3 linked regions of the Homo sapiens genome follow. The protein of the gene in region 1 purifies or fractionates together with the protein of each later gene. This does not show direct contact. Each region holds a gene or a part of one and is shown in the gene's direction. Other genes may lie near its edges.

Evidence for each region.
Region 2: the proteins of SPG7 (region 1) and HTR7 purify together in Homo sapiens (tandem affinity purification; one large-scale study listed by IntAct). This does not show direct contact.
Region 3: the proteins of SPG7 (region 1) and CHIA purify together in Homo sapiens (co-immunoprecipitation; one large-scale study listed by IntAct). This does not show direct contact.

What each region holds. Positions count from the first base shown.
Region 1 is NC_000016.10:89,547,845-89,553,463, forward strand, and holds part of SPG7 (mitochondrial inner membrane m-AAA protease component paraplegin isoform 1 precursor), read left to right. Parts: intron 1-158; coding exon 159-269; intron 270-850; coding exon of another isoform or gene 851-873; exon of another isoform or gene 874-938; intron 939-2,649; coding exon 2,650-2,765; intron 2,766-5,134; coding exon 5,135-5,291; intron 5,292-5,619. UniProt on the Homo sapiens protein: Catalytic component of the m-AAA protease, a protease that plays a key role in proteostasis of inner mitochondrial membrane proteins, and which is essential for axonal and neuron development.
Region 2 is NC_000010.11:90,851,540-90,855,039, reverse strand, and holds part of HTR7 (5-hydroxytryptamine receptor 7), read left to right. Parts: intron 1-3,500. UniProt on the Homo sapiens protein: G-protein coupled receptor for 5-hydroxytryptamine (serotonin), a biogenic hormone that functions as a neurotransmitter, a hormone and a mitogen.
Region 3 is NC_000001.11:111,317,957-111,321,063, forward strand, and holds the end of CHIA (acidic mammalian chitinase isoform c precursor), read left to right. Parts: intron 1-29; coding exon 30-153; intron 154-536; coding exon 537-722; intron 723-1,163; coding exon 1,164-1,283; intron 1,284-1,370; coding exon 1,371-1,512; intron 1,513-2,256; coding exon 2,257-2,510; 3' UTR 2,511-2,607; downstream 2,608-3,107.

The sequences.
Region 1 (5,619 bases):
TCAGGTGATCTGCCCACCTCAGCCTCCCAAAGTGCTGGGATTACAGGGGTGAGCCACCATGCCCGGCCATCTTTGTTCTCCCTTGAGGGCCCCTTCCTCCTCTTAAGCCCTGATAGCAGAAACCCACCCACCCACACCGTGGCTGTTTGTGTTGACAGGGGCTGACATCGCCAACATCTGCAATGAGGCTGCGCTGCACGCGGCGCGGGAGGGACACACTTCCGTGCACACTCTCAACTTCGAGTACGCCGTGGAGCGCGTCCTCGCAGGTACAGGGGGCGCGCCCTGGGTGAAGGCCCTCCTTAGCAGGGCTTGAACCCCAGAAATACCCAGGCAGGTATTGAGAGGTGAGGTGGATGGAACCATCACACAGGAAGGAACACACGTTGCGTTTCAGTTCTGCGTAACTCATGTCTTTATGATACCTTGTACTTTTCCTTAGTTTAAAATATCACAGATTTACCTAAGAGTAGACGCTCGTCCAACAGAAATAAAAAATGCCTTGCCAAAGAAAGTGAAAAAATAAAAATAAAAAATGCCCCCCAAAAATAAAAATAATAAAAACTAAAAATGTCTTGCCAGCCTGGGTGTGGTGGGCTCAGCCTAGCCCCAGCCTCATGGGGGCTGAGCTCCAGCCGCTGACTGTGGGCCGGAGGGCTGCTGCCGCCCGTGGCTGTGGAGGGACAGCCGTGCTTTCAGCGCAGCAGGGGCTCTGCGGAGAGGTGTGGATCTGCAGCACCACCTCTGGTGAAACTCATGGTCCCGACCGTCAGTAGGAACGGGAGATGAGTTTTGGTGACGGGTGACCGGTGGGCTGACCGCCTCTGACTGCCGTTCCGTGGCTGCTCAGTGTGGGGTCTGCGACGTCTGTGAGGAGAGAGGACCAAACTGGGAATCGGAGCTGCTGGAGGTTTCCATAGCTATGATGGCAACACCCAGACGTGATCAGTCATCTCATGGAATGGAGTTCAGACCCGCACTGTCAGTGTGAGACAGGTTGAACGTTTGAAAAGGGAAGTGGTTCTTGCCCCAGGTGTTTGAGGAGCACGAGCCTCCTTTGCGAGCTATCCCTGCGAGAACCGAGTTCCTCACCCTCAATTCGAGTGAATTCCTAGCACGAACACGCCTCTTGCAGGTCCCCAGGGCTTCAGCTTGGGAAAGCAGTGGGTTCCTGCAGAGGAGTGGGGCAGCTGCTGTGCCAGACACTGCAAAACACACCTGGCTTCTCTCCGACAGCCCTGCGGGTCGAGAGGACTGGCGCTGCCTGTGTCTTACTGAAATTTATTTTCGTGTAACCATTTACTTTTATGTGGAAATCGAAAAGCTTTTGATAATAGTAGCAAAGCAGGAAGGACTGAGTGGGAACCACAAGCCAGTTGAAAGAAAATACATGACGTACTTGAGTGCTCAGGACCACGAGCTGATTCAAGTTGTACAGAATGGACACTTACAGATGTGTGGAAAATCTGAGACAGGAAATGAAGCCTCACCAGTAAGCTGAACAGGGGAGATTTAATGCAAACATTTGTCCCTGGCTGGGCACTGTGGCTCATGCCTGTAATCCCAGCACTTTGGGGGCTGAGGCAGGAGGGTTGCTTGAGGCCAGGAGTTTGAGACCAGCCTGGGCAATACAGCAAGACCCCATCTCTTAAAAGAAAAGAATAAAGAGTATTAGCCAGGCATGGTGGTGGAGCACACCTCTGGTCTCAGCTACTCAGGAGGCTGCAGCAGGAGGATTGCTTGAACCTGGGAGGTTGAAGCAACAGTGAGCCGTGATCGCACCACTGCCCTCCAGCCTGGGCAACAGAGTGAGACCCTGTCACTGACAGAAAAAAAGCCTTGTCCCTGAGGCAAAAAGCTTCTGAAGGGGTGAGTAGAAGCCATAAGGATCCAGAAAGTGATGGGGATGGGAGCTGCGCCTCCAGGTCTGAGGGGAGAGGGAAAGTAAGCAGGAGGCCCGTAACTCAGAGGAGGCCTCTGCCCATCCTGCCAGGGAGAAAGTCAAAAGCTGCTGTTCTGTGACCCTTGCCCCGACCCTGTGGCACCCCCCCAACCATGGGGCAGGAGGAGACACTCCTCAGAGGGTTGCACTTGTTCCTAAAAGCAGCAGGAGCTATTTCGATGATTGCAACATTTATAAAAGAAGAAATCACGACCTCCTTCAACAGCCCTTTGACCTGAAGAGTGTCGTTTTGAGTTGGGGTGTCCAGAGCCGCAGCTGCAGCTCCAAGAGGCAGATGTGCAGAGAGAGGCTTGCTTTGACCACACGGGGCAGGAGCAGGGCCCAGCCAGGGAGAGGCCGGGGTCTCAGCTCACCCCCCCGTCATTCTTTTTTGTTTGTTTTTTGAGACGGAGTCTTGCTCTGTCGCCCAGCCTGGAGTGCAGTGGCATGATCTTGCCCTACTGTAACCTCCGTCTCTCAGGTTCAAGTGATTCTCTTGCCTCAGCCTCCCAAGTAGCTGGGACTGCAGGCGCCCGCCATCACACCTAGCTAATTTTTCTATTTTTAGTAGGGACGGGGTTTCACCATATTGGTCGGGCTGGTCTCGAACTCCTGTCCTCAGGTCATCCGCCCGCCTTGGCCTCCCACAGCGCTGGGATTACAGGCGTGAGCCACCGCGCCCAACTCATACCCCGGCATTCTTTCAGGGACTGCCAAAAAGAGCAAGATCCTGTCCAAGGAAGAACAGAAAGTGGTTGCGTTTCATGAGTCGGGCCACGCCTTGGTGGGCTGGATGCTGGAGCACACGGAGGCCGTGATGAAGGTGGGTCTTGGCAGGTGCCGGCTCCACGGGCCTTGGCCAAAGGTGGGTGGGGAGTCCCGCCTGTGTCTGTAGCTGACTGGGGAGTCCCGCCTGTGTCTGTAGCTGACTGGGGAGTCCCGCCTGTGTCTGTAGGTCATGTGAGAGGAAAGCCTGCCACTGTCATGATCCATGGAGCAGGGTGGGTGGCGACTGATGGGCGGGAACTCGGACGTGGGAGGCAGGAGTGGGCTGTGTCACATCGGAGCATGGTGCTGCTACTGGGGTGACTCGTGGAAGGTTACACCATGCAATGGGGTTTCGCTGCCTTTGCCTGTCCACCCCAAATGACTCCTAACATTGGAAAGAAGTGAGTTGAGTGTACATTTAAAAAATACTATTCTAGGCTGGGCATGGTGGATCACCTGAGGTCAGGAGTTCAAGACCAGCCTGGCCAACAGGGCAAAACTGTCTCTACTTCAAACAAACAAACAAAAAACTACTCTTGTAGGCAGCTGTGAACTCGATGGACATTTATTCTTACCAAATGGTGATGTTACAGCTTCTCTAAGACGTGGCTCCACCACCGGGAGTCCGAGTGCTGCCAAGAGGAGGTCTCTACTCGGAACGCAGGTGCCGTCTTTACAGTGGAGCCCCAGGAAGCCGTGCAGGTTTGAGGCTCACCTGAGAAGGCGGCAGTGCTGTGTTCCTACCTCAGGGTTCACTGCAAACAATGCATACGCTGTAGCAGTTGCCAGCTTGGTTTGTCAGTGCTGGTCTCCGTGATTGGTTCTCAGGTGTGAGTTGTAGCAAAGTTGCGTGTTAATCAGAGAGCGTCCTGCCCATCCCAGGGTCTCAGCAGGGCTGAGGCAGCGTTTGGGGACCAGATCCGTGCTGCTCCTTGGCGATGTGCACCACAGTCATGGGACCAGAGCTAGGCCCACTGTGGGGCGAGTGGACACTCAGCTGGGGGTCCCATTTATGGGACACTAAAAAACTCAGCAGTGAACACGACGTTTTAACACGGTATGTCAAGAAATCAAAATTAATGCAGGGACTTTGGGAGGCCAAGGCGGGCAGATCACTTGAGGTCAGGAGTTCGAGACCAGCCTGGCCAACCTGGTGAAACCCCATCTCTACCAAAAATACAAAAGAATTAGCTGGGCGTGGTGGTGCGTACCTGTAACCCTAGCCACTTGAGAGGTAGAGGCACAAGAATCGCTTAAACCCGGGAGGCAGAGTCTGCAGTGAGCCAAGACTGTGCCACTGTACTCCAGCCTGGGTGACAGAGCAAGACTGTCTCTCAAAGGGAAAAAAAAAGAATTTTTACTGTATTTGATGGGCAAAAGTCAGATAGTCACAATGAAAAAGTGAGTCTCTTTCCCAAGGCTCAGTGTCCTGCCAGGAAAAGGTTGTGAATTGGCTGTTATGGTTTTGGTCATTAATGCAATCATCACTGCAGCCGTTATTTAGAGCTTCTTTTTGTTTTGAGACAGGGTCTCTCTCTCTGTTGCCCAGACCGGAGTCCAGTGGTGCGATCACAGCTCACTGCAGCCTCGACCTTCCGGGCTCACACGATCCTCCTACCTCAGCCTCCTGCATAGCTGGGACTACAGGCATGCCCCACTGGTGGCTCGAGTGATTTTTATATTTTTTGTAGCGAAGGGGTCTCGTTATGTTGCCCAGGCTAGTCTCGAACTCCTGGGCTCATGCAATCTGCCCACCTCTAACTCCCAAAGTACCGAGATCACAGATGTGAGCGACCCCGCCCAGCCTAGTTTTAGATTTTAAATTAAGCGTCCTCGGGATTCTCAGAGCACTTGGATGTGGCCATCTCGCCGCCACAATTCTCAGAAGCAGCAGCTGGGCCAGCCCCTGCCCCGTCTCCGTCCGTCTCCCACTCAGCGGTTCCGTGTTGTCGAGTTAGCTCGTTGCCCCGCGCCACCTCCTTGCACACCTGATGTGGGGCTGTGGGGGAGCAGCAGAGGTGAGGACAGCCTCTGCTGCCTCAGCATCGTGGGGTTCTCATTGCTCTGAACCCTCAGTAGCTGTCGCTGGTGTGAGGGGTCAGCGCAGCGGCCATCGGGGGTGAAACTTGTCCTTCGCCTCTCAGCTGTCTTCTACGGGCCTTGTCTTCTTGACTCCCTGCCTGTCTAGTCATGTATGAGAAGACACTTCCCGGCAGTGTGTGAACAGGCACCTGTGGTGGGAACGCTGCTGTCTCTGGGCTGGCCATCTAGAGTGTTAGGATCCCCTGTTGTTGTAGAGGATGCTGCACATTTGCCTTCCTGCTTTGAGACGCTTTAATGACGGAGACCTCTTAGTCCCACACCTTCCTCCTCAAAGCCCACGCATCCTGCCTACTGACCTGGGTCATCTTGACCTTGTGCCAGGTCTCCATAACCCCTCGGACAAACGCCGCCCTGGGCTTTGCTCAGATGCTCCCCAGAGACCAGCACCTCTTCACCAAGGAGCAGCTGTTTGAGCGGATGTGCATGGCCCTGGGAGGACGGGCCTCGGAAGCACTGTCCTTCAACGAGGTCACTTCTGGTGAGGAGCAGCGGCGCGGGCCCTGGAGGTTTCAGAGCGCTTTTCCCTGCATGACTCCTTCTGTTCCAGTGCATGCCATGGGGTGAATCTGGTGTAGACGTAGCTTTGAATTTATTAAGTATTTTGTAAAAGATAAGTTGTGGTCATAAGAGAGTTGGAGCTAAGCAAGACTTCTTAGATAATTTAATTGGACAAAAACTTAACCTATATGCCAACTCTAGACACATTTAATTGGTTAATTGTTGGTAATGGCTACAGGAAACGGAATAAAATTGAAGCGGCTTCATTGTTCTGAAGCCATTACTGCACTGGGATATCCAGAGAGCTG
Region 2 (3,500 bases), on another chromosome or scaffold:
CCAAGAACACTGAGAACTAAAAATGAGAAAAAAGGAAAATATATTATTTCTGAAAAGCATGTTTTCTGCAATTCCGTTGTAGAATATGACAGATGATATTAAATGTGCTGTGAAAATATGTAAAAAAAAAATCTTCATTCCCTTGTTCATTCCCTCTTGAGTACCTAATATAGGTTACACTGTGCTTTGTGCAGCATAATCAAAGATTAATTACAATATTGTTGCTTTTGTGCTCATTACAGGCTTTTGTGTATTTGGAGAGTTTGGATATCTGTTGGGCATTTAGCCTGTCTAAAATGGAACCTTTCATTTTTCTTAACCACTCCCCATCACACCGGGATGCTTTTCTAATGTAATGCCATACTGTTTTTCACAGGCTTCAGAGCTCCCATCCCGTCTTTTTCAGAAAATGATTTGTATTCATTGAAAAAGTAGCAGCCATCAGATGAGAACTTTTATCTTTCCCCCACCAAACAATCTGATCTGTCCTGCATGTGTACCCTTCTTTTTACTTCTTTCCAGTTAAAAAGCAAAAAGACATTGTGAGCCAGCAAATACCAAACTACTTGGACTTTATATTCCATCTCCCCACCTTCTCAAGGTCTTTGTTCCTTTATTGTTTCTTCATGGATGGTCTTTTTTGTTGTTATTGTTTTGTTGTTTTTTTGGGGGGAGTGAGGTGGAGGGGGACAGAATCTCACTCTGTTACCCAGGCTGGAGTGCAGTGGTGCCATCTCTGCTCACTGCACCCTCCGCCTCCTGGGTTCAGGTGATTCTCGTGCCTGAGCCCCTGCAAATACCTAGGATTACAGGTGCACGCCACCACACCCGGCTAATTTTTGAATTTTAGTAGACACGGGGTTTTGCCATGTTGGCAAACTCATGACATCAACTGATCCGCCCACCTCGGCCTCCCAAAATGCTGGGATTACAGGCGTGAGCCACCAGGCCCAGCTTATTGATGGTCTTTCTTCAGCTTTTCCTTTCTACTGTGTCAAGTTTGGTTTTCTATCTTTTAAAACCCTTCTTTGGCCTCTGGCCTCACTTCTTCCTCCAGCCACGGCTCTGCTTCACAGTTAAGCTGCTCAAAGAATTGTATCCATAAGTTGTCTTTTCTTCCTTGCGCTTTAGATAGATGACTTTGATGCTCATCAGGTTTACTGCAATATTCTAATTGGCTTTCCTGGTTCCACTTCTGTCCAGCCCCGAGCTATTCCCTAAGAAGAAGCAAGAATGGTCTATTTAGAAACTTTTTAAAGTGAGATAATTTACATATAATGGCATGCACAGATCTTAAATATTCAATTTGTATGTTGACAAATATATATACCTATGTGACTAATGTTCTAATCAAGATATAGAATATCTTGTCATCCAAGAAAGTTCCCTTGTGCTAATTTAAGAATGATCTTTTAAAAATAGAAATCAAATTACCAGCCAGATGTGGTGACTCACAACTGTAATCCCAGCACTTTGGGAGGCTGAGGCTGGAGGATTGCTGGAGCCCTGGAGTTCAAGACCAGCCTGGGCAACACAGGGAGACTCCCATCTCTACGGAAAAAAAAAAAAGAAAAGAAAAGAAACAAAAAAGCCAGGCATGGTGGCAAATGCCTGTGTTCTCAATTACTTGGGAAGCTGAGGTGGGAGGATCACTTTGGCCCAGGAGGTTGAGGCTGCAGCGAGCCAAGATTACACCACTGCACTCTAGCCTGGGCAATAGAGTGAGGCACTGTCTTAAAAAAAAAAAAAAAAGAAAAAAAAAAGAAATCAAATTACTTTTTATGCATAGTTTTAAAACATGAAAAATAGTTTTACATATCATTTAGGGAAGCTTGTAGAAAGAGTAAAAGTATAAAATAGTGCAAGGGAGTGGTTGACGCCAAATTCAGGACAGTGATTTATCTCTGGTGGGGTGGGTGGTGGTGTAATCAGTAGTATATATATCACCTATATTGGTAATGTTTTGTTTCTTAATCTCGGTGGTGGATATAGACTTATTATCCTTTGTATAACTTTTTGTATGACTGAAATATTTGTTAAAACTTTTTGAAATTCATATAGAAAAGTATATGTATGTGCACAATTCTAAGGATGAAGCTTGATGAATTTCCACATCCATGTAAACAACTATATTAAGAAATAGAACACTGGCAACCTCCCAGAGGTCCCCTCCTCTCCTTTTCTAGTTTCTATTGCTTGCAAAGGGAACCATTGTCCTGACATTAGCATCATGCATTGGGGTTTTGCTTGGCTAGAACTTCATATAAATGGAATTGTATAGTATGTACTCTTTTGAATCTGGCTTCTATTTCTCAACATAATGTCTGTGAGAGTCATCTGTAGTTTTTAGCCTATCAGTGGTTCATTCATTTTTATTGATAAGTAGTATTCCGTTGTATAAATATACCATAATTTGCTTATCCATTCACCGTAGATGGACATTTGAGTTTTTTTCTAGTTTCTGGCTATCTCTAATAGTGCTGCTCTGAACATTTATTTATGTGCAAGTCATTTGTGGATATGTTTAAATTTATTTTGGGGAAATACAATCCTAGGTAATAAGGTACTTTGGAACATTTTAATTTTATCTATCCCCTCACACCTTTTATGTTATTATTGTCATTCATTTTAGGTCTACAGATTATTAAAACCCATTAGATATTATTTTTATTGTTGTAACAGTCCGTATTCATTCTTCTTTGCTTACATGTTTATCTTTTCCATTGTTCTTTGTTTTGTTCTGCATTACTACATTTTCATCTGAGATCATTTTCTTCTGCCCAGTTAGATGCCTATTAGCATTATTATTTTTTTAAATTAAAAACTTTTTTTTTTTTACTTCACATAAAGAGACAGTCTCGCTATGTTGCCCAGGCTGGTCTTGAACTCCCGGCCTCAAGTAATTCTCCCACCCTGGCCTCCCAAAGTGCTGAGATTACAGATATAAGCCATCATGCCCGGCCCAGCATTATTTTTTTACTGAATGTATTAGTCTGTTCTCATGCTGCTAATAAAGACGTACCCAAGACTGGGTAATTTATAAAGGAAAGAGGTTTAATTGACTCACAGTTCCACAAGGCTGGAGAGGCCTCACAATCATGGTGGAAGGTGAAGGGGAAGCAAGACATGTCTTTCATGGCAGCAGGCAAGAGAGAGCTTGTGCACGGGAACTCCCATTTATAAAACCATCAGATCTTGTGAGACTTATTCACTACCAGGAGAACGGTATGGGGGAAACCACCCCCATGATTCAGTTATCTCCACCTGGCTCTGCCCTTGACATGTGGGGATTATTACAATTCAAGGTGAGATTTGGTTGGGGACACAGCCAAACCATATTACTGAGGGTTTGCTAGTGACAAATCCTCTCAATTCTTACTTGTCTGAAAATGTCTTTGTTTCAGCTTCCTTCTTTTTTTTTTTTTTTTTTTTTTTGGGACGGAGTCTCACTCTGTCGCCCAGGCTGGAGTGCAGTGGTGTGATCTCAGCTCACTGCAAGC
Region 3 (3,107 bases), on another chromosome or scaffold:
ATGATTTTAAATCCTCCACCCCACCTCAGGTACCTGGACTACATCCATGTCATGACCTACGACCTCCATGGCTCCTGGGAGGGCTACACTGGAGAGAACAGCCCCCTCTACAAATACCCGACTGACACCGGCAGCAACGCCTACCTCAATGTGGTGAGTCCCTGTACAGATGCAAGAGCAGACCAGAGATGATGATGAAAATCACATAGAGATTCAGGCACAAAAGGCATCATAAGTTTAGTGGTTTTCTCAAATGGGAAATTAGGCTGCCATAATTAATTAAATATTCTCATTTAATTTCACACAGAGACTGGGACACAAAGTAAACATAAATTCTGCAAGTGTCTCACTTAAACAACTGTCCTCAAGTTGATCGTATTTCATTAACTACAACTTCACCAAAATGTTTTGAAAAAAATACTAATCCATCTGGAATTAACAGCATAGAGTTTTACCTGTCGGAATAGGGGACTAATATAACTAAGTACTGGGTCCTCAGCTGGTTGGGCCATGTAACTAACCCACTGACATTGCAGGATTATGTCATGAACTACTGGAAGGACAATGGAGCACCAGCTGAGAAGCTCATCGTTGGATTCCCTACCTATGGACACAACTTCATCCTGAGCAACCCCTCCAACACTGGAATTGGTGCCCCCACCTCTGGTGCTGGTCCTGCTGGGCCCTATGCCAAGGAGTCTGGGATCTGGGCTTACTACGAGGTATGTAGATTGGACTGAAAAGTGCTCTGTGAATTCCGTGCACTGTGCCTTAGGGCTAGAATCTGCTGAAATCTTGAATGTTCATTCTGTCTCCTACCTAAATGCTTTAAACACAGCTGCTTAAAGTGTTTAAATAGCATTCATTTACATAATCCAAATGAATAGCATTTAACAATGCATAATATCCCTTCACACAACAGACTACCTTTTAAATGTAATTTATATTAGCACACAGGTAATAAAATAAATATACCTCTCATATTACTGTGGGTTCCCAAAATCATTTGACAAGCAACTTGATCCTCTTTACTACAAATAAAAACCTGTAACTAGAAATTGAGCAAAACCCCAACTGGAGACATGAAAGAAGAAAAATTTGAAACATGTTTTTCTTTAATGGGAGTAACATTTAATAGATTTGAATCTCTTGACTTTTGAAAGATCTGTACCTTCCTGAAAAATGGAGCCACTCAGGGATGGGATGCCCCTCAGGAAGTGCCTTATGCCTATCAGGGCAATGTGTGGGTTGGCTATGACAACATCAAGAGCTTCGATATTAAGGTAAGATCAGTCCCTTAAATGTGCTGAGGTCCCAGCCCTGAGTCCCAGGAAAGCAAGTGATTCCTGTTATCCTCTTTCTTTAAACAGGCTCAATGGCTTAAGCACAACAAATTTGGAGGCGCCATGGTCTGGGCCATTGATCTGGATGACTTCACTGGCACTTTCTGCAACCAGGGCAAGTTTCCCCTAATCTCCACCCTGAAGAAGGCCCTCGGCCTGCAGAGTGCAAGTAAGTGACTGAGGGGGAATGCCCAGGTGTATAAATACCCCTTCTCCAACTCAAAAAGCAACCCTGATGTCTTCCCACCTCCCCCTTGCCCAGGGATCCTCTTTCCACTTCACCTCACCGCTCTTGCCCAGATGAGAGACAGGTTTTACCCTTGAACGGCCATGTCAGGAACATTGTGCACTTATGGGAAGCCAGGCCTAACTGGGTGGGTGTTCTAAGTCTGCTAAGTCTTAAGGGTGTGGAAGAGCCTCAAGAAATTATACTAACATCAATATAAGTATCTGCTTCTCTATGAATCCCTTATTCAAAATCTTTCTCAGCCCACCTGGGGAGATTTAAGAAACCCTCACCAATGCTCACATATCTCTAATCAGTGATTCAGGGGATGTATCAATTCTCTAAATTTTTTCCAGATTTTTCCTAGAATTTATTTGTTCACCATTTATGCCCAGATTCTAGAAAAGTGTTTTGCATACATTTGGTGGTTAGTAAATTTTTTTTTGAATGATTTAGATGTTATAAGGAAAGAGCAACCTTTTTTTACAATTAAAAGCCAGGCTGGCTTGACACAATAGCTTTATTTATCTCCTGAATATGGAGCTACTTTCTCTTCTCAGTTGCAGGGATCCAGAGCCAACTGCACCCCACCTCCACACTTCCACTCCCACAGTTCTCTTCACCTCTAGGTGAAGCTTAGAGCCTCTCCCAAGCCCACTAGTCTGCTCTTACTGCTGTATGTTTCAGGTTGCACGGCTCCAGCTCAGCCCATTGAGCCAATAACTGCTGCTCCCAGTGGCAGCGGGAACGGGAGCGGGAGTAGCAGCTCTGGAGGCAGCTCGGGAGGCAGTGGATTCTGTGCTGTCAGAGCCAACGGCCTCTACCCCGTGGCAAATAACAGAAATGCCTTCTGGCACTGCGTGAATGGAGTCACGTACCAGCAGAACTGCCAGGCCGGGCTTGTCTTCGACACCAGCTGTGATTGCTGCAACTGGGCATAAACCTGACCTGGTCTATATTCCCTAGAGTTCCAGTCTCTTTTGCTTAGGACATGTTGCCCCTACCTAAAGTCCTGCAATAAAATCAGCAGTCAAAACATGACTGTCCTTGCTTTTAAGTGATTTGGGTGGAAACCTCTTCCAGATATGAAAATAGGGGCTATGCATGGGGGTGGAGTGGTGGAGTAGAGTGTGAGAGGAAGTGGTGGAGCTAACAGCGCCACAGTCTTCTATCTGCCTGTGTTCATCTGCATGAAGGTTGGAAGCTGTAAGGAGGAAATGTCTGAATGTTTGGTGCATGGGAGGGATGAGGATATGAAGAGGATAGGTCTGTCACCAGGCAATTTTCCTCAGGAAGGAGCTGAAGTGCTTCTGTAAGACTGGGGGACATAAGCAGTGCTGCCTGGCTTGCTCAAGGAGTGGAAGACTGGGACATCCTCTCCACTTCTACTGAAGTGGACTGGCAGCTTCGGGAAGATTTGTGCAGTAGACTCCATTTAGGGTTTCTGCCTAGCCCATGGGCCAGCCAGGCTCCCTTTCTCAGGAGATGACACCTACCATTGGAATCGTAGTGGTGGCCACCAGCTGCTGTGCTTGTAT